4 linked regions of the Homo sapiens genome follow. The protein of the gene in region 1 interacts with the protein of each later gene in a pairwise test. Each region holds a gene or a part of one and is shown in the gene's direction. Other genes may lie near its edges.

Region 1 (5,800 bases):
TGCGCGGTGGTTCTCCTCTAGGTCACCATGGCTTTGTCATTGGTTACTCCCTCTTTCTAAGGCGCCCTCTTGTTTGGTGGGCAGTATTGGGTGGGTCCCCCCACAGCTTCGTGAGGTGGGCTAGAGGAGCTGGGCATCGGGTCAGTGCCCCGGCCTGCTGGGGGCCCTGTGGGGCCGCGTGTGCCCCGGTGCCTGGAAGGCCGACTCTCTTGACAGCAGGTCTTCTCTCCAAACGTATCCACCCAGCCAGGTGTCTGCCATGGGGCTGCTTAGAGTCGGCCACAAAATCAACCCGTGTGCAGGGTCAGTGGCTTGGCATTGGGCTTTGGGGCCTGTCCCTGTGGCTGGCAGCCTGCCTGCTGCCCGGTCCACGCCTCTGTTGCCTTGGATTTGGGTTCTGAGTGAATGCAGCCTTGCCTCTTGGACCGTCCTGTGAGACGGGCAGCTCTCCACCTGCGTCCTCAGCACTGCGCCCTTGTTGCAGGTATGGCGTCATCATTGTGGGCAACCCGAAGGCACTATCAAAGCAGCCGCTCTGGAACCACCTGCTGAACTACTATAAGGAGCAGAAGGTGCTGGTGGAGGGGCCGCTCAACAACCTGCGTGAGAGCCTCATGCAGTTCAGCAAGCCACGGAAGCTGGTCAACACTATCAACCCGGTGAGCGCCTGCACAGGACAGCAGGGCAGCACGGAGAAACCCGGGCCCAAAACACTGCTGGGAACGTGCCAGCTTGGCCCGTGTGCCCGTGAGCTGAGGGAGGGCTCTCCTAGGGGAGGGTGGGCTCTCCTAGGGGAGGGTGGGCCAGCCCACTTCTTGTCTCCCGAGCCGTGTGTGGCATTTTTGGCTTGGGGCCGCTAAGTCCTGGGTGGCCTCTGGGAATTGGGCTCAGGGCTGCTGTGCTGCATGCAGCAGCCTGGGACCTTGGACACGGGCAGTTGGAAGCTTTGCAAGCCCGGGGTGATCTGGTAGTGAGGGGGTGTGAAGCTTCCTGAGCTGAGGCCCAAGGGTCAGCATCAGAGCCCAGGTCTGCCGAGGAGGGCAGGCGAGACCCAGAGGCCATGAGACAGCAGCTCCCTCCTGTCTCCAGGGAGAGCCCCTGGCACAGTGTCAACACCTCACAGCTGCATACCTGCCACCTCCCAGGCCACCGGGCCCGTGGGAAGTTGTTCCTTCTGTTGAGATGACAAATTCCTCACCTATCTAAACCTTCGCAGGGAGCCCGCTTCATGACCACAGCCATGTATGATGCCCGGGAGGCCATCATCCCAGGCTCCGTCTATGATCGGAGCAGCCAGGGTGAGTCGCTCAGCAGGGGACCTGGCCGACCCCTTGTCCTCACACCGGGATGCTGGCCGTTCCCATGGCTGCAGCTTTAGGTGCCCCCATCTTTCCTTCCCCTCAAGGGCGGTGCCTGGCTCCCTTGGCCTCCCCGCCCCTAGGGCATCTCTAGCCCCGGAACACTCCTGGGGTGTTTGTCTTTAACCAGAGTTTATTCATTTGTGTTTCCTGGTGATCAAGCTAGTTAGCTTTTTCTTGCCTTTTGGTAGGGCAGGGACTGCATGTAGTACAAATAGAACATTTTCATAAAAAGGATTTTTTTTTTCCTTTGGTAAATGCAGGGTGATTTTCATTTATTTTCTTTTTTTTGTTTAGAGACAGGGTCTCCCTATGTTGTCCAGGCTGGTCTCAAACTCCTGCCTCAAGCAGTCCTTCTGCTCAGCCTCCCAAAGTGCTGGGATTACAGGCGTGAGTCACTGCACCTGGCCAATTTGCAGGTGTTTTTTTTTTTTTTTTTTTTTTTGGAGACCGAGTCTCGCTCTGTTGCCCAAGCTGGAGTACAGTGGTGTGATCTTGGCTCACTGCAACCTCCCCCTCTGGGTTCAAGCGATTCTCCTGCCTTGGCCTCCCGAGTAGCTGGGATTACAAGCACCCACCACCATGCCCGGCTAGTTTTTGTGTTTTTAGTAGAAACGAGGTTTCGCCATGTTGGCCTGGCTGGTCTCAAACTCCTGATCTCAGGTGGTCCACCTCGGCTTCCCAGAGTGCTGGGATTATAGGCTTGAGCCAACACGCCCGGCCCCAATTTTCAGTTTTTAAGATCTGTGTAGGCCAATGATTCCCAGCAGACTCTCCTCGGGGAAGGTGCCTGCCCAAGCACCCAGCCCCAGGCAGGCTGCTGTAGTTAACATGGAGTCCTGCGAATCCGCATCTTCAGCCTGGGCAGAGCCAGGACAGATGTGCAGCTCCGGCTGACTGGCTGGTGGGGTGGGTGGGGTATCGCTGGGGTTTGACCGAGGCAGGTGACACCTGCCGTGTTCCACTGTGATTTGCAGGCCGGCCTTCCAGCATGTACTTCCAGACCCATGACCAGATTGGCATGATCAGTGCCGGCCCTAGCCACGTGGCTGCCATGAACATTCCCATCCCCTTCAACCTGGTCATGCCACCCATGCCACCGCCTGGCTATTTTGGACAAGCCAACGGGCCTGCTGCAGGTGAGCATCTGTGGCTGCGGCTGGGTGTGGCCCTCCTGAGAGCTCTTGAGGGTGTGCTTGTCTGCGAGGCCCTGGCCTCCTTCGGATCACCCTGGACTGCTGTCTTTCAGGGCGAGGCACCCCGAAAGGCAAGACTGGTCGTGGGGGACGCCAGAAGAACCGCTTTGGGCTTCCTGGACCCAGCCAGACTAACCTCCCCAACAGCCAAGCCAGCCAGGATGTGGCGTCACAGCCCTTCTCTCAGGGCGCCCTGACGCAGGGCTACATCTCCATGAGCCAGCCTTCCCAGATGAGCCAGCCCGGCCTCTCCCAGCCGGAGCTGTCCCAGGTGAGCCCGCCCCTGGGACGGGACTTACCTGAGTGAGGGTGGGGCTATGCACCTGAAACATTCCCTCTGAAGAGCCCCAGAGAGCTGGCCTGGCCCATGTCCACTGTCTGAATTACCTGTCCCTGGGCTGGGGTCATCAGAGTGGGTCTCCTGGGTCTTAGTTTGGGGACGGGTTTTCCATTCTTTTCTCTGGGGCTGCTGAGGGCTGGGTGGATGTGAGCACCCTTGGCCTGTGGCTTGCTTACCTCCTGACCTTGTCTTTCAGGACAGTTACCTTGGTGACGAGTTTAAATCACAAATCGACGTGGCGCTCTCACAGGACTCCACGTACCAGGGAGAGCGGGCTTACCAGCATGGCGGGGTGACGGGGCTGTCCCAGTATTAAAAGGCAAGCCCCCCTGGAGCAGGCCTGGCCCCACCCCAGCCTCAAGGAGAAGGATGGGAGGGGGCTCTCCCCAGGGAGCTGCACTGGAGGGGTGGTATCTGGAAATGTGTGCTGTGCCTGGTGGGGGTCATAGGCCCTCAGGGCCAGCTTGGCCTGTGCCCTTCACTGCTAGTCAGGGTGGCTCCTCACCCCACCCTACCCCATCCTGTCTGCTCCGGGGACCACCGCGGGACCTCAGTTTCCTCATCAGAGTCGGGGAGGGCAGCTCGGGCTCTCCCTCACTGTCCTGTGTGCTGGGTACCTGTGGGGCTCAGGTCGCAGCCTCTCACCGCCTCCTGCCCTTCTCCCTCCTGACAGGTGGCGGCGGAAGAGCTAAGCAACGTGGCTTAGTCCATCAGCATCTTATTCTGGGTAATAAAAAATAAAAATAAACGGATACCTGTTTTCCACTGCTAAAACTGAAGCACCACTGTGTGAGCAACAGGAAGGGAGAGCGCACGAGGGAGAGGAGCCGAGGCCGAGCGCCCCCTGCTGGCCCGCGGCGGCGAGGAGCAGAGGGAGCGGAGGAGGGGCCGGCCCGCGGGAGCCGCGGCCACCAGGAGGCCCCGCTCCGTCCCATCGGGGCTGCGGCCAGGGCGGAGGGAGGAAGACCCTCATCTCAGAGTAGCCCTTTCCTCTGTTCTTTTATTTCTTTTTCTCTTTGATTGAAAGGGGACTACGTCTTAGCAGGAAAAAAAACTTCGCATTTCTGTGCCCGAGCAGGCTCCTTGCAAAGACAGCAGCGTGCGGGGCAGAGCCCCGGGAGGGCGCGTCTGTCCACGCCTACCGGACGCGCCGAGGTCGCGCTGCCTGTGTTCTCCGAGGGCCTTCATTTAAAGAAAATAAGGGTGTTTTGGGTTTTTCTCTTTGTTTTTTTCAAGATTCTTTTAAAGGAGTACTGAAGAATACTTTCCTAAGTTTGTCTGTAAAATCTTAGCGGTGGACCTGGGAGATTTGAGAAGCTTCCAGAAACAGTTTAAACAAGCCAGCGCTACTGGAGAAGAGGAGCAACACCTGTGCCGCGGCCGGAGGAGTTTTGTTGTTGGTTTTAGCTTCCAGTGGCTTCTTTCTGCGGGGCATCAGGCTGCTGGGGTAGCCGCCCGCCGAGCCTGGAAGCTGCTCGTTCTCCGCTGGACTCAGAAGCCAAGCTGCTTCCCGCCTAGACTCGGCGCAGGGCCCCGCACCGGTGAGGAAGGTGCTTTTGGCCCCATTGCGAGGGGCCTTGGCCAGGACTGGCCCTGTGGCCAGGAGGCGAGAAGGTGGCTGTTCCCGGATTGACGGCTTTTTCCCGGGGGCCTTTGGAAGATTTGGTGGAAGGACAAGAGGGCCTGTCCCTGTCCCCGTCCCCAGGAGGTACCGACAGTCCCTGTGCTGGTTAGACACGGAGCGCTGCACACCGAAAGCCCAAATTGGGAGCTCTGCCTGCCGGCAACTTTGCTGATGGGGTGATTGCTGCTTCTGGGGGGTAAGGAAACAAGTTACAGAAATTACCGCGTTCTGTGTGAAGGGACTGAGGGTGTGGTGTCATTGGCAGAGGGTCATTTTAGGAGAGCTGCCCCAGCCCCTCGAACGCCTGGCTTGGGGTGTCATTCTGCCTGGCGGCCAGGCCTCCAGCTTCCCCTGCCCCGGGCCTGGGGCTGTCACTGGCCCTGATCCGAACACCTCCAGATTCCGGCTTCTACATGGGACAGACGGGGACGCACAGGCCACCTTCCTTCTGGCAGGGACTCTTATTTATTCCCATTGCTCTAGGGCTTTCGGTTTCCCCTTCTTCCGGTAGGCCGCGTAGAGGCATGCACCGGGTAGGTTTCCGCGGTGACCCCGCGGCGGCCTGAGGGACGCTCCCTGCCCCATCCCGGCTGTTGGGCTGGGCCGCTTTGCCTCTGCTTCGCCCTGTGCTGTGTTCTCCAGCTTTGTAGCAGCAGCCTTGACAAACCCAGGCGCACTGTACCAAGGCAATGTAACTTTTGATTTTCGGTCAATTTAAGTTCTTTTGTCACCAAATATTAATAAACAGTTTTGACTTCACACCAAGGTTGGATAAACTGCAGGGGGTGGAGGGTGCTGGGGTTTTGCCTTGGCTGAGTGACGGGTTGGGGTGTGAAGGAGGCCAGAGGGAGACAGGCAAAGCCCAGAAGGGACAGGTCTGCCTTGCAGGACTGAAGGGCGACCCCTGCCCCTGGGCCCTTCCCGTAGGCAGCACCTGGGCCTGTCCGGGCGGCTCCCCGGAGTGGCGCGTTAGGCCTCTGGCAGGTGGCCTGGAGGTGGAAAGGCCTATCCGATCACCAAGACTGAGGGGCGCCCTCCCCACCACCCAGGCAAGGAGTCCAAGGAGACCAGCGGAGCAGACCACGCGGCATTTATTGTTGGGCCCGCGTCCCTGCCCGCCCCGGGTTAGCGGCAGCCGCACTCGTCCACCACCATGTCCTCATACTGCCGCAGCACCACGTTGTCGCTGTTGTCAAAGAAGAGCACGGAGATGGGCGACAGGCGCGCGGGCACGCAGCAGGGCAGGTCGGCGGCTCCCGGGGCGGCCGCGTGCATGAGCGCG
Region 2 (7,028 bases), on another chromosome or scaffold:
CTATTAATGACTATAATTGAAAAGCGAACAAATACAGATTTCCCCAGTCCTGTTTTGGCAGAGACCTGCCTTTTAACCCACTTTAATAGAGATAACTTTGTGTCAAAGTTAAACTACAGTTAATAATTCATAATGAAAACTTAAAATGTTTCTTTACAGTAGTTGTGTAAAGATACTGCTGTTACCTTAGGTTAAGAATTAAGCAAAAGATAATCTTCTAACATAGAATTGTTTTCCAAAGTGCCCCCGTCTGCCCTATTTCCAAATAACAAATTTAGCAAATATGAATGAAACCTTAATTTTTGTGAATAGTATGAAATCACAGCATAAGTGTTCACGTTTTTCTTTCTTGTGTCTAAAGGATCTCTCTTACAATGGAAGTTGACAGGAATATTATAAATATTATAAATGTCTTTGTTGCATAACTTTCAAATTTCTGGTCGTGAATAGTTTTCAGCTTTTAGGTCTGTTATTTGAGTTTTGTAGGTGTACTTTGAGCTTGATCAGGTACAGTGGAAATGTTACATGTTATGTTTTAGTTATGACTACCTGGAAGATGGGGAAAGATACACCTCTTAAAATTGATTTAGGAAAGAAACGCCAATTTAGTATCTGGGAAAGGACACAACACATTTTTAAAAATGTGTAGTGCTTCCCATTAAGCTTAACGTAAAACTTTTAAGCATTGAGAATTGTTACCATAAATATAGTTTCTTGAGAATAAGTTGCTCTCTTTTAGGTTTCAGCCAGAAAGTCCATGTATATACAGATTACAGCAGGTCCTTGAATAATGTTGTTTCAAGATAATGTTGAGAAAAAAAACTGTCTGTGGAGTTTACACGTTCTCCCTATCCCTGCATGGGTTTTCTCTGGGTACTCTTGATTTCCTCCCACATCCCAAAGCTGTGCACGTGAGGTTCACTGGTGTGTGGAGCTGTGTGTGTAAGTGTGAGTGCTTTCTGCAGTGGATGTCCTGTCCAGGACTGGTTCCGGCCTTGCACCCTAAGCTGCTGAGATAGGCTCCAGCCACCCCAACCCTGAACTGGAATAAGTGGTAAAAAAAAAAATTTTTTTTTTTGAGATGGAGTTTAGCTCTTGTCACCCAGGCTGCAGTGCAATGGTGCAGTCTCGGCTTACTGCAACCCCATGCCTGTAATCCCAGCACTTTTGGAGGCTGAGGTGGGCAGATCACCTGAGGTCAGGAGTTGGAGACCAGCCTGGCCAGCATGGCGAAACCCTGTCTCTACTAAAAATAAAAAAAATTAGCCGGGCTGGGTGGCGGGCACCTGTAATCCCAGCTACTCAGGAGGCTGAGGCAGGAGAGTTGCTTGAACCTGGGAAGCAGAGGTTGCAGTGAGCGGTTATCGTGCCATTGCACTCCAGCCGGGGCAACAAGAGCAAAAGTACTTCTCAAAAAAAAAAAAAAGGCATGTATACTTCACATTTATTTCAGTGTTTAATATTCGAAGTGTTTGGTCTTTATTTAAAAGTTTGGTGATATTTTTCTGATGAGAAATATGCCCTAGAACCTAACTCTTGTTTGTATCAATAAGCGTGTGTTAGTCGGAAGTCTCAGTTTCCAAGAACCTACCCCTTATGTTAAGAGAGGATTTACTGTATTTTAAGTTTAGAAATGGCCATGACTCATGGAACTCTCCTCCATCCCCATTCTAAAGTCCAGATCATTGATATCATTCTGGGTGTTATCAAAATGGATACTGCTTCATCCAGTCTCTCTCCCCAATACCACAAGGTAGTCTCAGTTTGTGGGGCAACTTTCTTTGAGCCTTTTTACTGGATTGAGTAAGAGTGTAATTCAGTATAAAGATGAAACTTTCATGAAAAGGGTATCTTTTTGTGGGATTCCACAAGTCAATCCCAGAGTTTGTCGCCCAGGCTGGTCTTGAACTCCTGAGCTCAAGTCATCTTCCCACCTCAGCCTCCTTAGTAGCTGGGATTATAGGCAGAGGCCTTGTTTTCATGAGCCTCTAAATTGGATCTTCTTATTTGATGTGATACCCAGTGACACAGAATTGTTCAATTTGAGGAAATATAAATTCCTCCCCTCTCAAATAAGAGCTTTGGAGTTGCTTTTCTCTCAGAATGGGATTTTAGAGCTTTCAAAAATGTTTAGAGAATTTTATGACAGATTTGTTTCACACTAGACCTATAACAGGTTATTTTACATTGACTTCTGGTGATGGAGACATTTGTGGTTGAAATGCTTCTCGTGTAATTTTCTACATGAGCTTTTCTTTAAATAAAACTTCACCAGAGTCAAGGCTGTATACCATTTGTGCTGTTCCAAAAAATATAAATTGCCAGTTATCAGTTGAACTATGAGAGGACATGTTAGTTGCTATGGTTATTTACCCCCACCATTTTATTATGAAAAATTTCAAACATATAACAAAGTTTATGAAGTTTTATTGTACATCTCTTTAGATACCATCTACTTTCTATTTTTGCCTCCCTGTTTCATGGTGCTGAACACCGTCTACTATTTTTTTTTTTTTTTTTGAGACGGAGTCTGGCTCTGTTACCCAGGCTGGAGTGCAGTGGTGTGATCTCGGCTCACTGCAAGCTCCACCTCCTGGGTTCATGCCATTCTCCTGCCTCAGCCTCTCGAGTAGCTGGGACTACAGGTGCCCGCCACCATGCCTGGCTAATTTTTTTGTGTTTTTAGTAGAGATGGGGTTTCACCGTGTTAGCTAGAATGGTCTCGATCTCCTGACCTTGTGATCCGCCCACCTCGGCCTCCCGAAGTGCTGGGATTACAGGCGTGAGCCACTGTGCCCGGCATACCTTCTGCTCTTTGTCATGAACATTTTACCATACAGTATTATGAAGCTTGAATAATGTTGGCCAAATCCATTGTTCTCACCTGCTAAGGAGATAATAGGATTATAAATATATAGCTGTGTTGATCTTATCAAATGCCACGGGATGGATGGGCTTGGATATCTGTCTTGTTGACAGCTTAATGCTCTGAACTAGAAAACCTTACTGCAGAGAAAAGTAATATTTTTAAAGTGGTAAAATGGGAATTACTGCAAATAGCTTAATTTGTTTTTTAAGTGTTTACATTCCCATACTGGTGAATAAGGTTGATGTAACAGTGATTTATGTCACCAGATAAATGGAAGTAGAGAAAAATTTCTGCAGGCTGTTAATTGCTGTATATTTTCTGGGATTACATATGTTTATTTGTTAAAGAAGTAGACTCAGGGAACTCCCTCAAAGTATATTTACTGGAAGCAAAAGTGGAAAAATCTATTTGAGAAAGTGTTTGCTTTCGATTAAAAATTAGTCTTCTGAATATCAAATCTGTAACCCATCTGGCATCTGTTTAATCTGGAATCTAATTTGGGAAAGAAGTGTGATGACTATGTGGGTTTATAACAGTAATGGAAGCAAAACTGGCCATTTTATTATGATAGAAATTTTGTGTCATGTCTCCCAGACAATAAAGGCTAAGAAAATCTATTTAAATACATTGGGGTCTTTTCCCCTGAATGAACATGATTGCTGAGGGTTAAACCTTCATTAGATTGCCTCTGCTTTTTTTTTTTTTTTTTTTTTTTTTTTTTTTGTTGAGATAGTCTTGCTCTGTTGCCCAGGCTGGAATGCAGAGGTATCATCTCGGCTCACTGCAACCTCCACCTCCTGGGTTCAAGCAATTCTCCTGCCTTAGCCTCCCGAGTAGCTGAGACTACAATTGAGCACCACCACGCCCGGCTAATTTTTTGTATTTTTAGCAGAGATGGGGTTTTGCCATGTTGCCTAGGCTGGTCTCGAACTCCTGAGCTCAGGCAATCCGCCTGCCTTAGCCTCGCAAAGTGATAGGATTACAGGCTTGAGCCACTGTTCCCGGCCTTGCCCCTATACTTGATGTAGCTACAGAACTGGTTGCTCAGTGAGTGGGTTGGTTTTAGTCAGCATATTCTCTGATCCTATTTAAAATTTTTTACAAGTGGAGTGTTGCTGTAAGTTTTATAGATGTTTATGTGTAAGGACAGGTTTAGTGAATTTGCTGGATAATAATATTTACTGCTATTGAGCTCTTACCATGTGCCAGGTTAGAATTACAGGGTGAAAGTTATTTTATGCAGAAAAGGAATTAAAAGGTCAGGTTGAATTTACCTAATAATATAAAAGTTGCAGTTCATTTAGCTCTTTCCTTGAACCAAAGAAAAGGGTTTCTTAGACCCTTTATGTTGTATTTCTAATACTCATAAACATCTTTGCAGCGTAAAGCTCATAATAATTGCTGAGGATGCTGATGCGCTTCCGAGGGGCCAGATAACTGGCTCAGAGTCCTGAGGCACCAAGTATTAGTTCTAGAGCACAGGCTGGTCTGGCTCCAAAGTCAGTGTTCTTTCCACTGAACCATGCTTTGTCTCTAAATTATGCTTAGGTGCTTTTTGTTTAGGATAATTGATTCTGCTTGTCACTGGTGGCCCTCCCCTGACTCTCCCCACCGCAGCAGCTAGGATGAATTTTGCTCATTAGAACCCTAGATCAATTTGAAAGAAAGTCTGGTTAAGTAATAGTCTTTTAGATGGACCCTTGAAATAGCTTTCCAGTTTACTTTTATTTGTTATGTCAAATTAAGCTAAAACTTAAAGCTGATCCACAGGTTTGTGTGTGGGGAGGGGCTGTCTTATTAACCTTTGTGTTAAAGGAGGCCAGCTCCTAAATTACTGCTATCGTGTGTCATCAGGTTTGTTAAAAATTGCTGGCATGGTGGCCCACGCCTGTAATTCCGTCACTTTGGGAGGCCAAGGCAGGCGCATCACCTGAGGTCAGGAGTTCGAGACCAGCCTGGCCAACATGGTGAAACCCCATCTCTACTAAAAATACAAAAATTAGCTGGGTGTGGTGGTACGTGCCTGTAATCCCAGCTACCCCGGGGGCTGAGGCAGGAGAATGGCTTGAACCCGGGAGGTGGAGTTTGCAGTGACCTGACATCGTGCCGCTGCACTTCAGCCTGGGCAACAGAGCAAGACTCTGTATCCAGGGGGGGAAAAAAAAAAAAAGAACTGTAGTCCAGGTTGTTGCTAAAAAAAAAAATTCATTTCTTCTGAATTCTAACATTCTGCTTTAGTGGAAATGAGTTAACTAAGCTTCCAATTAACTTTATAGGATAGGTGCTGGTTGTCCTCTTTGCTTCCTAGCCCTTTCTAACATCCCTCTTGTGGCTAATACTGTTGGGAGTATTTAGTACAGCTTCCTGTTTGGAATTGAACTGCTTCCTGAACAATTTTGTTTTACTTTTGTTTGAAACGGTGATCTGAATCAGAAGCTTCTTTGGTATTCCACCTGGGCAGTCTTCTCTTATGGTTAGTCTTGAAAGGCTGGATCAGTGAAATTAAATCTGCCTTTGGATGTGAGCTTTTAGTGAAATGGTGTCTGAAGTTCCATTTTGTGTTTAACCTCAACTGAGGCTACCCTGTAGTCTGTAATGACATAGCATGTCTCATTAATCACTAATAGGTGTTGGAAATACCCCTTGGCATGAAGTGAGCAGATAATGCTGCTTACATTGTCACTATATTAGCTCCCTTCAGAGATGAGCTTTAGGATCTAACTAGATCTTGTCTGATTCTCTCCTATCTTTGCTGTTTTGAAATCCATGCCTTCTATAGATTACAATTAACTGAGGCATGAATTTTCTACCCTTGCAGATTCCACCCTGATTCAAATAGGGCCATTGTCTGCTGAAGCCATTGTGATTTTATGCAGAATGCTAGGCAGTCCTTTCCTCTGTCAGAAAGAACAATTTATATGTAATAATAAGTCTCATTATGCTTGGAAGCTTATTTTCCTTGTTGCACAATTGAACCAACCTGCTCATGAAAGCTCCATGACCCTTTACCTAGATGACAGTCAAATATAGTTAGGCAAATAAGTTTCCTTTTGGTTTGTCATTGAGTAAACCTTTGCAACCTGTAATGTTTAGCAAGTGACTACTTCTGTATAGTAATTTTCCTTTTAGTTGAGAATTTATTCAAGCACCAAACATAAAAAAGAATAAAAGTGAAATAAGCTTTCTTTTGCATAAGGGACTTTCTATAATTTGCTACTTTTTATCTTCTTTTTTTTTTTTTTGAGGTGGAGTTTTGCTCTTGTCGCCCAGGCTGGAGTGCAGTGGCGTGATCTCGGCTCACTGCAACCTCCACCTCCCAGGTTCAAGCGATTTTCCCACTTCAGCCTCCCGATAAGCTGAGATTACAGGTGCGTACCACCATGCCTGGCTAATTTTTTTTTTTTTTTTTTAGATGGAGTCTTGCTCTATCGCCCAGGCTGGAGTGCAGTGGCGCGATCTTGACTCACTGCAAGCTCTGCCTCCCGGGTTCACGCCATTGTCCTGCCTCAGCCTCTGGAGTAGCTGGGACTACAGGTGCCCGCCACCATGCCCAGCTAGTTGTTTTTTTTTTTTTTTTTTTAGTGGAGACGGTGTTTCACCGTGTTAGCCAGGATGATTTTGATCTCCTGACCTTGTGATCCACTCGCCTTGGCCTCCCAAAGTGCTGGGATTACAGGCGTGAGCCACCGCGCCCGGCCATGCCTGGCTAATTTTTATATTTTTATTTTATTTTATTTTTGAAGCAGAGTCTCGCTCTGTTACTCAGGCTGGAGTGCAGTGACCCAATCTCAGTTCACTGCAACCTCTGCCTCCCGGGTTCAAGTGATTGTTCAGCCTCAGCCTCCCAAGTAGCTGGGATTACAGGCATGTGCCACCATGCCAGACTAATTTTTTTTTATTTTTAGTAGAGACAGTGTTTCACCATGTTAGCCAGGCTGATCTTGAACTCCTGATCTCAGGTGATCCACCTGCCTTGGCCTCCCAAAGTGTTGGGATTACAGGTGTGAGTCACTGCGCCGGCCTAATTTTTGTATTTTTAGTAGAGATGGGATTTCACCATGTTGGCCAGCCTAGCCTCAAACTCCTGACTTCAGGTGATTGGCCCACCTTGGCCTCCCAAAGTGCTGGGATTACAGGCCTGAGCCACGGTGCCTGGTTT
Region 3 (7,028 bases), on another chromosome or scaffold:
TGTTGAAGGAGCCTGGAGAGTCAGACCTTGGGATTCAGTATTGACCTTGGATCTCTTTGAAAACTAAAGAATATAGGTTCCTTAAGAAATAATTAAGTGGAACCCATTTAAGTGTAATTAAGTGTAATTCATTTAAGCACAGTTCTCTAGAGCCAAGTAAATTGGCCAAGAGATTCTCCTTAAAAAGTGAGGTCCCCAAGTGAATAAAAATATAGAAGACAAGGCTTAATGTATATTAGAACAAGCATTTTATCTGATAGGATGTATTTAAGTTGCAATTTGCACCTAGTTTTTTTTATTGTTAGATAAGAAACTGGTTTAGTAATTTTAGGGTTACTTGAACTTTTTAGAACAGCCAGAGCTTCTAAAGTAATGATGTGGTGTTCTTTGCATCATCCCACCTTTAATGCTTCTCAGAACTCACTGCCATTAAGAAACAAGCATGGAATAAAACCAGCAGCCCTCAGTACTTACTTGGAGGAGGCACTGTCTCCAAAACTTAGCAGATTGTATTGTGGAACTTGAATTTTAAAGAGAAACATTCTGTTTTGTAGTGTTCCGTATTTGCTGAATGCCTTATTTATTGGAAGAGGAGGTTTTTTTTTTGTTTTTTTTTTTTTTTGAGACGGAGTCTTGCTCTGTTGCCCAGGCTGGAGTGCAATGGCACGATCTCGGCTGACTACAACCTCCTCCTCCCAGGTTCAAGCAATTCTCCTGCCTCAGCCTCCCGAGTAGCTGGGATTACAGGCACCTGCCATCATGCCCAGCTATTTTGTGTGTGTGTGTTTTTGCAGGGATGGGGTTTCACCATGTTGGCTAGGCTGGTCTTGAACTCTTGACCTCAGGTGATCTGCCCGCCTTGGCCTCCCAAAGTGCCGGGATTACAGGTGTGACCGCGCCTGGCCTTTTTTTTTTTTTTTTTTAAATGATTGACATTTAACTTACACACTGTAAAATTCACCCTTTTCAACTGTACAAGCTGGGCGCATTGGCTCACACTTATAAACCCAACACTCTGGGAGGCTGAGGTGAGAGGATTGCCTGAGGCCTCCATAAAACATAGTGAGACTGAGACCCTGTCTCCACAAAAAAAAAAAAAAAAAAAAAAAAAAAAATACAGCTGGGTGCAGTGGCTCATGCCTGTAATCCCAGCACTTTGGGAGGCCGAGGTGGACGGATCACCTGAGGTCAGGAGTTCGAGACCAGCCTGGCCAACGTGGCGAAACCTGTCTCTATTAAAAATATAAAAATTAGCCAGGCATGGTGGTGCGCGCCCGTAGTCCCAGCTACTGGGGAGGCTGAGGCAGGAGAATCACTTGAATCTGGGAGGCGGAGGTTGCAGTGAGCCGAGATCACACCACTGCACTCTAGCCTGGGCGACATTGACACTCTGTCTCAAAAAAAAAAAAAAAAAAAAATAGCTGGGTGTGGTGGCACAAACCTGTAGTCCCAGCTACTTGGGAGGTTGAGGTGGGAGGATCTCTTGAGCCCAGGAGCTGGAGGCTGCAGTGAGCTATGATGGCACCATTGCACTCAGCCTGGGTGACCAAATGAGACACTGTCCAAAAAGAAAAGTAAAGTGTACATACAGTTCAGTGGCTTTTAATATATTTGTAAGGTTATGCAACCATCACCACTTGGCAGATGCTTTTTAGAATATTCTCAGTTTTAAGCTGGAACATCTCAGAAGTGACCTCTTCAGGGCCACCAGAGTAGAGAGGATTCCAAATCAAAGTAATGGTTGTTTAATCCAGAAAGGCCCTTACACTTTATTAATATGTTAAATTCTATCTGTTGAGGTAGATAATAGGTAAGATTCTGTATTTGAGAATGTGTTTTTGAGACTGAAGTGCCTGCAAGAACAGTGCTCATATAAAGGTGTTTTTAGGCTTCAGTGGGACAGCAGATGGGGTAGAGGAGAGGCCCCACAGTATCCCTGGAGTATCACAGTAGTAAACACTGCCTTTCGTTACTTCTCCTGCCATGGCTGACCTTTTTGTCTCTTGTTTCATGGTTTTACACGTATGAATGGCTTGAGACTGAGGATTTAGGGAAGAAGCGAAGGCATCATCTAGGGCTGTGCTGTGCCAAGTTGAGCAGTTGTTTAAACTGTTAGAATTTTTGACTGGTGTAAAAACCCTCTTTGGAGCAGGTATTACGTAGTGCTGTCAGTACATATCTTATTGCATTCTTCTGTTCTTTATTTTTTACCTTTTCTGAAGTTGCACAGCGTGAAAAGACAGCAATTTCAGTTTGAACAAGTTAAGGAAGTAATGTAGACGACAAAGTTTAAGCCTTGATTTGCTTGCTTTGGTTTGCTGGGGAAGAAATGTCTGAAAGTGTTCAGATAGTATTTTCTTTCTGGTTGAAGAGAAAGGAATGAAAAAGAGATTTGATAACCTTCTGGGTTGAGTTAGCAGTATTGGAATGGAATTTTTTTCCAGAAATGCGAATTTCTGGTTTTGCTCAGATATATGTACTAGCGACTCATTAACAAACATTTACCAGTCCACTGAATGAAAGATGCTATGCTAGGCACTTGAAATAACACCAAGATGAATAAATTGTGGTCCTGAAGGAATCTAGAAAGGGATCAGATGCCCAGTGTACTCTAGTGGAAGTCACAGTGTGGTAAGTGAGCCCTGCAGAGAGTGTAGAGAAGGCTTTCAAAGCCGAGAACAGCAATCCCTTACGTAAAACCTCTCAGTCTTGTCACTCTCATAAAACTAAAGATTTATCTATTATCTGCTCACTGTTCTTTGCGAATGCCTTGTGTGTATTTTTTTTTCTGGCCTCCTGGGCCAGAGTTGCAGCCAAAGCCTGATCACCAAGGTTGTGTGTATTTTAAAAAACTTTTTACTTATTATTTTTTAGAGACGGGATCTTACTTTGTCACCCAAGCTGGAGTATAATTGTGTGATTATAGCTCATCGTAACTTCAAATCCCTGGGCTCAAGTGATCTTTCACCTCAGCTTCCTGAGTAGCTAGGACTATAGGCACCCACCATGACGCCTGGCTAAGTTTTTTTGTTTGTTTTTGTTTTTTGAGATGGAGTTTCGCTCTGTCACAGGCTGGAGTGCAGTGGCCCTAACTCGGCTCACCGTAACCTCTGCCTCCCCAGGTTCAAGCGATTGTTCTGCCTCAGCTTCCCAAGTAGCTGAGATTACAGGTGCCCGCCACCACGCCCAGCTAATTTTTGTATTTTTAGTAGAGATGAGGTTTCACCATGTTGCCCAGGCTGGTCTCGAACTCTTGACCTCAAGTGATCCACCCGTCTCGGCCTCCCAAAATGCTGGGATTACAGGCGAGAGCCACTGTGCCTGGCCAAGTTTTGTATTTTTAAGTTTGTCGAGAGTGCTGAAGGTAGAGCACTGGTTATCTTTTTACAGTACTTGTCTATTTCGTATTAAACAGCAGTGAGTTCAGTTACTATGAGTCTGGCTAGTGTGTCTATTGGGGCATGTTTAGAATTTCATCATTCTACCCTTGGTTTTAAAATATCTTCGGGAGACAAGAATTTGGCTACTAGTTGAAGGATCTGAGGTCCTCAGAACAATCAAGAAAACTGACAGTTTTTAGCTGTTGATTGTTGATTCATTTCAAGGCTTAGAAGTTTCTGCCTTGTTTTCAGTAGAGTTTAACAAAGTGAGCCGAGACTGTAGATTTATATGGCTCCTTCGTAAATGGCTTTGTTCTAAGGAAACCTAGTTGTTACAGTACTCTAAGTTGAACCAGTTTCCCATCATAATTCTACTTTCAAAGAGAGAAGAACACTTAATAAGGCTTTCCCGAGCACCTGACCTAACAGTGGTGACACTCACTTCCAAACCACATTCCCACTAGGTAATTGTATGTCGCTTCACTTGAAAAAAAAAAAGCGCATTCTGCAGAATGTCACTGGGTAATTTCCTGGTTGAATATTTCTGTAGAACTCCAGTATGTTACCATACTACTTGTCCATTGCCTTTAGGTGGTTAATTTTGGTAGCAGAAAAATGTTTCGGTTATTTTTTTATTTTTGACATGGAGTCTCCCTTTGTTGCCCCGGCTGCAGTGCAATGGCGTGATCTCGGCTCACTGCAACCTCCACCTCCCGGGTTCAAGCGATTCTCCTGCCTCAGTCTCCTGAGTAGCTGGGATGACAGGTGCGCACCGCCATGCCTGGCTAATTTTTGTATTTTTTTTTTTTTTTTTTTTTTTTTTTTTTTTTGAGACGGAGTCTCGCTCTGTCGCCCAGGCTGGAGTGCAGTGGCGGGATCTCGGCTCACTGCAAGCTCCGCCTCCCGGGTTCACGCCATTCTCCCGCCTCAGTCTCCCAAGTAGCTGGGACTACAGGCGCCCGCCACTACGCCCGGCTAATTTTTTGTATTTTTAGTAGAGACGGGGTTTCACCGTTTTAGCCGGGATGGTCTCGATCTCCTGACCTCGTGATCCGCCCGCCTCGGCCTCCCAAAGTGCTGGGATTACAGGCGTGAGCCACCGCGCCCGGCCTAATTTTTGTATTTTTAGTAGAGACAGGGTTTCACCATGTTGGCCAGGATGGTCTTGGTGGCTACTGACCTCAAGTGAGCCACCCACCTCGGCCTCCCAAAGTGCTGGGATTACAGGTGTGAGCCACCGCACCCGGCTGTTTCTGTTATTTTTGTACTTTTTTGAGGGTATCTGAAATGGTTTTGGTTTGTGTATTTTAAATGTTATTTAAATGGTTTTTTGTTTCTTTTTTGTTTTTGAGATGAATCTCTCTATGTCGCCCAGGCTGGAGTGCACTGGCACGATCTTGGCTCACTGCAACCTCTGCCTTCCTGGTTCAAGCGATTCTCCTGCCTCAGCCTCCCAGGTAGCTGGGATTACACGTGTGCACCACCATCCCCAGCTAATTTTTGTATTTTTAGTAGAGACGGGGCTTTGCCATGCTGGCCAGGCTGGTCTCGCACTCCTGACCTCAAGTGATCTGCCCACTTCAGCCTCCCAAAGTGCTGGGATTACATGTGTGAGCCACCGCGCCTGGCCTCAAATTGTTTTTGAAGTAGTTAGGTTGTAGCTCATAAGACTGTCTTTCAGGGTTGTTTGAAAAACATAATGGAATTTTAGTTACTCTATGCAAAGTCTGATCAGGTTGATAATGTGGCATTGCTTTTGTGTCCGAATAAAGAGGTTCTTAGAATGTTAGCGCTGGATACGACCCTAGCAGTTGTACAGCCTCTTCATTTTCAGATAAAGGAACTGGAGCCTTAGAAATGCTAAGTAAATGCCTAAGGTCACTCACAGAGTTAATGACACCATTGAGTCTAGAATGCAGATTTGCTACCTGCTAGTTTAGTGCTTGATCTGCCACATCATGCTGTTTAATAACAGGGGGCGGGAAGGGCATGCCTGGAGCTAATTACTACAACTAGCGTGTAGTTTTCTGAGAGTGGCCCTGGCATTTGCCTAATGTTTCATTCTTAAAGGTTTTTGAAATTATTTTGGGGCTTTGAAGTGCTTGCTGTAATAAATTTATTGAGCATTTACCACCCCTTATCAGTTATTTAGTCTTCACAACATTCTCTTGAGGTTAGGTACTGTTGACCCATTTTACAGATGAGAAAATAAAGGCTCAGTAAAGCTAAATAACTTAGGTCAGTCATATCCATGAGAGGAGTGAGGCTTGGAATCGAGGTCATTTCAAAGTTTATTCTAGTAGTGACTGCTAGTGCTTTCCTTGTGATTTTGTATTAAAGTAGACTGAGACTCTCCAGAAACTGGACCTGTGAGCTTGGACCATGGCATTTCTCTGTGTTCTGTCTCAGTAGTAGCAGAATGACATTTGTCATAAGTAGGCAGTGCTCTGATTTAAAGCAATATTTTGAAATTACTTCTTTTTACATTTTAGCAAGTGTTGATGTAAAATACTTTAAAACAGCTCTGTTCACCACTGTCTGTACCGAGCCTTTTTATTTTTAGAGTGTTAGGTAATTAAGGCAAAACCATCCACATTGTTTTATGTGTTCTGTAGACTTCTTTCTGGTGTTTGCTTTTACTGTTTTTCAGTATTGTCTACAGGAGAAAAAAAGAAAAACCTCAGCTTGCAAATTTTTGTTCAGAGATGGGATCGTTCTTTGTTGTTGGAGGGATTTACATTAAAAAAATTCAAGAAATATTGTCTCATGTGATCTTACCAGATAAGTGCCTATTATTAAGACTTGTTGGCTGCTGGATTTATTATCTTAGCCTAATTTTCTTTCTGAGTTAAATGAATCTTGCTTTTTTATCGTTACCACCCTGGCATAATCCAATGGGAATATAGTATGAACCACATAGTTAATTTAAAATTTTCTTTCTTTAATTTTGTTTTTTGAGACAGGGTCTCACATTGTTGCCCAGGCTGGAGTTCATTGGCACAATCATAGCTCACTGTGGCCTCAACCTCCTGGGCTTAAGTGATTCTTCTGCCTCAGCCTCCTAAATAGCTGGGACTACAGTTGTATGCCTCCACGCCTGGCTCATTTTTACATTTTTTTTTGTAGAGACAGAGCATCACTGTGTTGCCCTGGCTGGTCTTGAACTCTTGGCCTCAAGCAACCCTCTTAGCTTGGCCTCCCAAAGTGCTGGGTTTATAGGCGGGAACCACCACAGCTGGCCCAACATCTCCTGAGTGTAGTGTTTCCCTAACCCCTTCTTAGAAAGTTGGCACATTTAAAATTGTTTTCACTCTCTTGAGCCCTAATGGAAATGCAATGAATGTACAGATGGAGGCTAGGGGTCCTGGTCAGAAAAGGGAAGTGAGGCCAGTTGTGGTGGCTCATGCCTGAACCCAGGAGGTGGAGGTTGCAGTGAGCCCAGATTGTGCCACTGCACTCCAGCCTGGGCGACAGAGTGAGACTCCATTTCAAAAAGAAAAAAGAAAAGTGAAAAAATGAAGTGATGTGACTGGAAGGAACCAGTGTGAAAATCAAAGGAAAACACAGTAATTCAGTAAAAATTGATTGTGTATTTATTCTATACAATACATCATGCCAACTTGTTGAGACTACTGAAGTAGAGAAAAA
Region 4 (7,028 bases), on another chromosome or scaffold:
CCTCCCTGCTTCTGCCATTCTCATCCAGGCAGTTTATACACACGCTCTTCCATGTCTTTAGAGAATTCGAGAAGAGAAGCGAGAAGAACGGAGGAGGAGAGAGTTAGAAAAGAAACGTTTGCGGGAAGAGGAAAAAAGAAGAAGAAGAGAAGAAGAAAGATGCAAAAAAAAAGAGACAGATAAACAGAAGAAAATTGCAGAGAAAGAAGTAAGGATTAAGGTAATTCTGAGGAAACATTTCCTTTTTCCAAAAATAGCTCTGCTATAGTAATTACACTTTTTACATATCTTAGTTCTTTAGAATTTTGAAAACATTCTGAATTAATCTAATATTGTGTTGTTATTTTTTTCCATCTTTTCCATCTTTCTTTCCATCCTACAGCAGTGGTTATCACAGTGCGTCCTGAGCCCTGGGAGTCCTCAGGCTGCTGTTGGGTGCCTGTCCTCCTGGGTGTGCAGTGGGGAGCACACCCCACAGGAGCCCCACGCTGGCACACGTTGGGCTGCTGCTGACGCTCTTTTTTTTTTTTTTTTTTTTAAACTTTCCAACTTTCATTTTCGGCTCAAGGCGTACATGTGCAGGTGTGTTACATGTTCATTGTCAGCTCAACGCGTACACGTGCAGGTGTGTTACGTGTTCATTTTCGACTCAAGGCGTACACGTGCAGATGTGTCACATGTTCATTTTCAGCTCAAGGCGTACACGTGCAGGTGTGTTACGTGTTCATTTTCGACTCAAGGCGTACACGTGCAGATGTGTCACATGTTCATTTTCGGCTCAAGGCGTACACGTGCAGGTGTGTTACGTGTTCATTTTCGGCTCAAGGCTTACACGTGCAGGTGTGCCACATGTTCATTTTCGGTTCAAGGCGTACACGTGCAGGTGTGTTACGTGTTCATTTTCGGCTCAAGGCGTACACGTGCAGGTGTGCCACATGTTTATTTTCGGTTCAAGGCGTACACGTGCAGGTGTGTTACGTGTTCATTTTCGGCTCAAGGCGTACACGTGCAGGTGTGTTACGTGTTCATTTTCGGTTCAAGGCGTACACGTGCAGGTGTGTTACGTGTTCATTTTCGGCTCAAGGCGTACACGTGCAGGTGTGTCACATGGGTAAATCAAGTGTCACTGGGGTTTGGTGTGCAGATAATTTTGTTGCCCAGGTAATCAGCACAGTACCTGATGTTTTTCAGTCTTCACCCTCCTCCCATTCTCCACCCTCTACATTTTCCTTTAAAAAAAAGTTTTCCTCCCAGCACTTTGGGAGGCTGAGGCGGGCAGATCACGAGGTCAGGAGTTCGAGATCACCCTGACTAACATGGTGAAACCCTGTCTCTACTAAAAATACAAAAATTAGCCAGGTGTGGTGGCGGACGCCTTAATCCCAGCTACTCAGGAGGCTGAGGCAGGAGAATCGCTTGAACCCAGGGAGCAGAGGTTGCAGTGAGCCGAGATCGCGCCATTGCACTCCAGCCTGGGCGACAGAGCAAGACTCCCTCTCAAAAAAAAAAAAAAAAAAAAAAAATTTCCTGGCCGGGTGGGGTGGCTGACACCTATAATCTCAGCACTTTGGGAGACCGAGGCAGGCGGATTACTTGAGTTCAGGAGTTTGAGACCAGCTTGGCCAATATGGGGAAACCCCATCTCTACTAAAAACACAAAAATGAGCCGGACGTGGTGGCGTGTGCCTGGAATCCCAGCTACTCAGGAGGCTGAGGCAGGAGAATCACTTGAACCCAGGAGGCGGAGGTTGCAGCGAGCCGGGATCGCGCCACTGCACTCCAGCCTGGGCAACAGAGCAAGACTCTGTCTTAAAAAAAAAAAAGTTTCCCTGATTAAAAAATACACATTTGAAAACCACTGGTTTTGCCTTTCTGTGTGAAGGCTGACTCAGAACCGGGTTTTATCATTTCTTTGGCAGTAGCACTAATGAGTTTCTGTATTTCTTGCTGAGTTTTTTCTGTGACTGATACATTCATTTATGAGGGTGGTTTAATACATAGAGGGAATTTTTCTCTGTGTGAAATGTGTTGGCCAGAATTGGGACCAGCCATTATCTCCTCAGTACTAAACCTAGATTTGAACCTAAGGTATCACTCATTACTTATTATTTATTGAATACCTTATATTCAATAATATTGTACAATATGAGGAAAAAAATGAAATGTCAGGACTTGGGGAAAGAAGATAGCTTAGGAAAGGGTGGGGAAGAGATCATTGAACCATAGATTTGTTTCTGATATGGTCAGCAGTCAAAAACAGAAAAGTTGGCTGGGTATGATGGCTCATTCCTATAATCTCAGGACTTTGGGAGACCAGGGCAGGTGGATTGCTCTAGCCCAGGAGGTCAAGACCAGCCTGGGCAACAGAGAGAGACCCTGTTTCTGTTTTTTGTAGAGATGGGGTTCCCACTATATTGCCCAGGCTGGTCTCGTACTCTTGGACTCAAGTGATCTTCCTGCCTCACCCTCCCAAAGTTTGGGGATTACAGGCGTGAGCCACCATGCCTGGCCTGGTTTAGCTTTTAATAAGTATCTGTGCTCAGTATGGGGGTCTTTCACTTCTAAATCATGTGGAAAATTGAAATTCTTTTAATGCCTGAAAAATGGAATCTGTGGAGAAATGCAAAAGAAGGTGTATCAACAGCTTAAAGAAAGACAGATGGCTCATGGCTATTTTGCTATTTTTTTGTTTGGTTTTGGTGGGGGGGGGGTTTGAGACAGGGTCTCAATGTGTCACCCAGGCTGGAGTGTAGTGGCACAGTCACAGCTCACTGCAGCCTCTACCTCCCAGGCTCAAGTGATCCTCCCGCCTCAGCCTCCCATTACAGGGGTGCAACATCATACCTGAATAGCTAATTTAAAAAAAAATTTGTAGAAGTGGGGGTCTCACTATGTTGTCCAGGCTGGTCTTGAACTCCTGGGCTGAAGTGATCCTCCCACTGCTGGGGTTAGAGGCATGAGCCACCGTGCGTAGCACTCATGGCTATTCTTAATAAAGAGAAATATGGTTTGGGAGGCCGAGGCGGGCGTATCACGAGGTCAGGAGATCGAGACCATCCTGGCTAACACAGTGAAACCCCATGTCTACTAAAAATACAAAAAAATAGCTGGGCGTGGTGGCACACGCCTGTAGTCCCAGCTACTCAGGAGGCTGAGGCAGGAGAATCGCTTGAACCTGGGAGGCAGAGGTTGCAGTGAGCTGAGATCACGCCACTGCACTCCAGCCTGGGCGACAGAGCGAGACTCCGTCTCAAAAAGGCTGGACCGCGGTGGCTCACACCTGTAATCCTGGCACTTTGGGAGGCCGAGGTGGGCGGATCATTAGGTCAGGAGATCGAGACCATCCTGGCTAACACGGTGAAACCCTATCTCTACTAAAAATACAAAAAATTAGCTGGGCGTGGTGGCGGGAGCCTGTAGTCCCAGCTACTTGGAAGGCTGAGGCAGGAGAATGGCATGAACCCGGGAGGCGGAGCTTGCAGTGAGCCAAGATTGCGCCACTGCACTCCAGCCTGGGCGACAGAGCAAGACTCCGTCTCAAAAAAAAAAAAAAAAAGAAAAGAAATACGGCACACAGAACAGCTCAGCTGTTTAATGTTCCTCTGAGGATGCTAAGCAGTGAGCTTATGTGTGGCCACATGGGTGAACACACACAGGCGAGGGCTGGGAGGGAGCACAGCTGCCCATGCGCTCCGCTTGGCCTCCGGAAGCCTTGCAGGGCGTGGCAGAGCTGGCCTGCTCCCCAGCTCGTCTCCAGCAGCTCTGGCCTGCTCCCCAGCTCGTCTCCAGCGGCTCTGGCGTGCTCCCCAGCTCGTCTCCAGCGGCTCTGGCGTGCTCCCCAGCTCGTCTCCAGCGGCTCTGGCCTGCTGGTTTCTCATGAATGCACCAGCGGATTCCACCTCAGGACTCCGCACGTTTCCCTCCACAGGGACTTCCCCAGATGTGCCCGTGGCTCCTTCTTGGCATCTGGTCTTAGTTCCCGTCTTGGCTCTGCAGAGAGCCCTCCTGGGCCCTCCTCTTCCTGCGTCTCTGATGCTTTACTCTCCCTTCATGTCTGTTCGTAGCTTTTGATGCTACCTGAGGTTATCTTATTCCTTTGTTTCCTTTTTCATATTTTTGCCACTGTTCACAGCATTCCCCCTTGACCACCGTTGCCTCAGGTGGTGCATCAGGCGCAAGTTCCTTCGAGGCAGGGGCACCTCTTGTCTCATTCACAGCCATTCCCTAGTGCCTAGCACAGGGTCTTAGGCCCTGGTTCCTGCACACAGCTCCTCAGACCTCGGGAATCTGCAGTAATATGAGTGTCTTATATGCCAATGAGAGGACTAGGGGCTGGGGGCCCCAGGCAGCTTCAGGATGGGGACTAGTTGGCCAGAAAGCCAAGGCAGGACTAGAGGGTTGGGACTTTCAGTCCCACCCTAGCCTCCGAGAGGGCAGAGGGCCTAGAGAGAGGTCACCGGTGGCCAGTGACTTAATCAGTCACACCTACATAATGAAACCTTAATAATGCCTAAAGACAGGGCTTCCAGGGGCCAGGCACAGTGGCTCACGCCTGTAATCCCAGCTCTTTGGGGGGCCAAGGCAGGTGGATCCCGAGGTCAGGAGTTTGAGACCAGCCTGGCTAATATGGTGAAACCCCGTCTCTACTAAAAATACAAAAATTAGCCAGGCATGGTGGCGCATGCCTGTAGTCCCAGTTACTCAGGAGGCTGAGGCAGAAGAATCGCTTGAACCCAGGAGGCGAAGGTACAGTGAGCCGAGATCGCGTCACTGCAGTCTAGCTTGGGTGACAGAGCAAGACTCCATCTCAAAAAAAATAAAAAAAATAGACGGGCCTTCCGGGTTGGTGAGCACATCAAGGTGCTGGGAGGGTTACTGCATGGAAGCTCCAAGTACCACTACACCATACCCCATACCCACCTTGTGCATTTTTTCCGTTTGGCTGTTCTGGGTTGTATCCTTTATGATTAGCCAATAATCGAGAAAACAGTGCCTTTCTGAGTTCTGTGAGCCATTTCAGCAACTTACCAAATCTGAGGAGAGGCCATCGGGAACCCCTGAATTTATTGCTGACTGGTCAGAAGTACCGGTGACACACTGGGACTTGGAACTGTCGTCTGAAAGGGGGGCAGTCTTGTGGGACTGAGCCCTTGACCCGTGGGTTCTGGTGCTAACTCCAGGTCGATGATCTCAGAGTTGAGTTGAATGTGGAGCACGCAGCTGGTGTCGGAGGGGTGGTATTGAAAAAGACGTGCAGTGTCAGAAATGTAAGAACAGTTCCTAGGCACACAGAATATTTGTTGAATGGGTGGATGGAGATTTGCACTTCCTATGGTTCACATTTATTACAGACATGTTACTGTTGCAATTTTTATAAAAGATGGGCAGTTACCAGAAAGGAAATGTTTAAGTTCCCAGATTCCACATAGGCAGAATAAGAGGATGTTCACAGCTGACATGGGGCCCACGCTTGATGAGAAGCGGCTTCCAATGCTCCACCTTGCATGATGCGTTGTGTTCCCAAGTGAACACGTGTGATTGAATGCATCTGTGTATGGTCTTGCTATGCTGCAATTATGAGTGAGAACAGAATTCTCAGATGTACACCTTCCATTTCTGTTCTACAAATGATCTGTCTGTGGTGCTTCCGTTTTTTTTTTTTTTCTCCCTTTTCTCAAGTTAGCTGAGGTGCTTTAGTTTCAAAAACTATACAGAGAGCAGGGAGAAAGGCCAGGGGCATACAGGGCAGATGAAATATGTCGTGGCGACTTGTTCATTAATTCTGTTTCAGGAAAGAGAATAATCAGTGTTTTGAAAACTATAAACTATTCTAAAAATCATCAGTAGGAAGCAGCCTTTTAAAAATTTTTTTTTCCTTATTACAAAACTAATACTTGTCTATGTCAGGAAAACTAGACCCTATAGATGAAAGGAAATAAAGTCATTTCAGTTCTGCCATCTAGAAATAATCACTATTGGCCGGGCATGGTGGCTCATGCCTGTAATCCCAGCACTTTGGGAGGCCAACGCTGGGGGATCACAGGTCAGGAGTTCAAGACCAGCCTGGCCAACATGATGAAATCCCATCTCTACTAAAAATACAAAAATTAGCCAGGCACGGTGGCAGGAGCCTGTAATCCCAGCTACTTGAGAGGCTGAGGCAGGAGAATTGCTTGAACCAGGGTGGCAGAGGTTGCAGTTAGCTGAGATCAAGCCACTGCACCCCAGCCTGGGTGACAGAGTGAGACGTCGTCTCAAAAAAAACAACAAACAAAAACTACAAAAGTTAGCCAGGTGTGGTGGCACGCCCCTGTAGTCCTGGCTATTCAGGAGGCTGAGGCAGTAGAGTCGCTTGAACCCAGGAGACGGAGGTTGCAGTGAGCCGAGACTGCACCACTGCACTCCAACCTGGACGACAGAGCGAGACTCCATCTCAAAAAAGGAAATAATCACTATTAATACAGTGCTGCAGAGCCCTTTAGGTGGTGGTGTGTGTGTGAACATAAATAGAAGTGGGGGCTGGGCACGGTGGCTCACGCCCATAATCCCAGCACTTTGGGAGGCCAGGGTGGGTGGATTGCCTGAGGTCAGGGGTTTGAGATCAGCCTGGCCGACATACTGAAACCCCGTCTCTACTAAAAATACAAAAAATTAGCTGAGCGTGGTGGTGGGCGCCTGTAATCCCAGCTACTTGGGAGGCTGAGACAGGAGAATCACTTGAACCCGGGAGGAGGAGGTTGCAGTGAGCCAAGATCGTGCCATTGCACTCCAGCCTGGGCAACAAGAGTGAAACTCCATCTCAAAAAAAAAAAAAAAAATTAGACGGGTATGGTGGCGCATGCCTGTCGTCCCAGCTACTCAGGAGGTGGAGGCAGGAGAATCACTTGAACCTTGGAGGCGGAGGCTGCAGTGAGCCGGGAGTGCGCCACGGCACTTCAGCCTGGGCGACAGAGCGAGACTCTGTCTCAAAAGAGAAAAGTGTAAGTGAGATTGTGGTGCATGTTCTGTTTTTTAGCCCTTTATTCATT

Evidence for each region.
Region 2: the proteins of UPF1 (region 1) and STAU1 interact in binary tests that used the Homo sapiens proteins (3 or more experiments, as listed by UniProt).
Region 3: the proteins of UPF1 (region 1) and GSPT1 interact in binary tests that used the Homo sapiens proteins (3 or more experiments, as listed by UniProt).
Region 4: the proteins of UPF1 (region 1) and UPF3A interact in binary tests that used the Homo sapiens proteins (3 or more experiments, as listed by UniProt).

The regions. Positions count from the first base shown.
Region 1 is NC_000019.10:18,862,954-18,868,753, forward strand, and holds the end of UPF1 (regulator of nonsense transcripts 1), read left to right. Parts: intron 1-484; coding exon 485-659; intron 660-1,216; coding exon 1,217-1,298; intron 1,299-2,335; coding exon 2,336-2,497; intron 2,498-2,607; coding exon 2,608-2,825; intron 2,826-3,090; coding exon 3,091-3,210; 3' UTR 3,211-3,213; intron 3,214-3,567; 3' UTR 3,568-5,277; downstream 5,278-5,800. Other genes in the region: GDF1 (embryonic growth/differentiation factor 1 precursor), read right to left, coding at 5,644-5,800. UniProt on the Homo sapiens protein: RNA-dependent helicase required for nonsense-mediated decay (NMD) of aberrant mRNAs containing premature stop codons and modulates the expression level of normal mRNAs.
Region 2 is NC_000020.11:49,178,331-49,185,358, reverse strand, and holds part of STAU1 (double-stranded RNA-binding protein Staufen homolog 1), read left to right. Parts: intron 1-6,114; exon of another isoform or gene 6,115-7,028. UniProt on the Homo sapiens protein: Binds double-stranded RNA (regardless of the sequence) and tubulin.
Region 3 is NC_000016.10:11,905,942-11,912,969, reverse strand, and holds part of GSPT1 (eukaryotic peptide chain release factor GTP-binding subunit ERF3A), read left to right. Parts: intron 1-7,028. UniProt on the Homo sapiens protein: GTPase component of the eRF1-eRF3-GTP ternary complex, a ternary complex that mediates translation termination in response to the termination codons UAA, UAG and UGA.
Region 4 is NC_000013.11:114,291,573-114,298,600, forward strand, and holds part of UPF3A (regulator of nonsense transcripts 3A), read left to right. Parts: intron 1-28; coding exon of another isoform or gene 29-61; coding exon 62-220; intron 221-226; exon of another isoform or gene 227-1,012; intron 1,013-1,098; exon of another isoform or gene 1,099-2,149; intron 2,150-3,778; coding exon of another isoform or gene 3,779-3,880; exon of another isoform or gene 3,881-4,536; intron 4,537-7,028. UniProt on the Homo sapiens protein: Involved in nonsense-mediated decay (NMD) of mRNAs containing premature stop codons by associating with the nuclear exon junction complex (EJC) and serving as link between the EJC core and NMD machinery.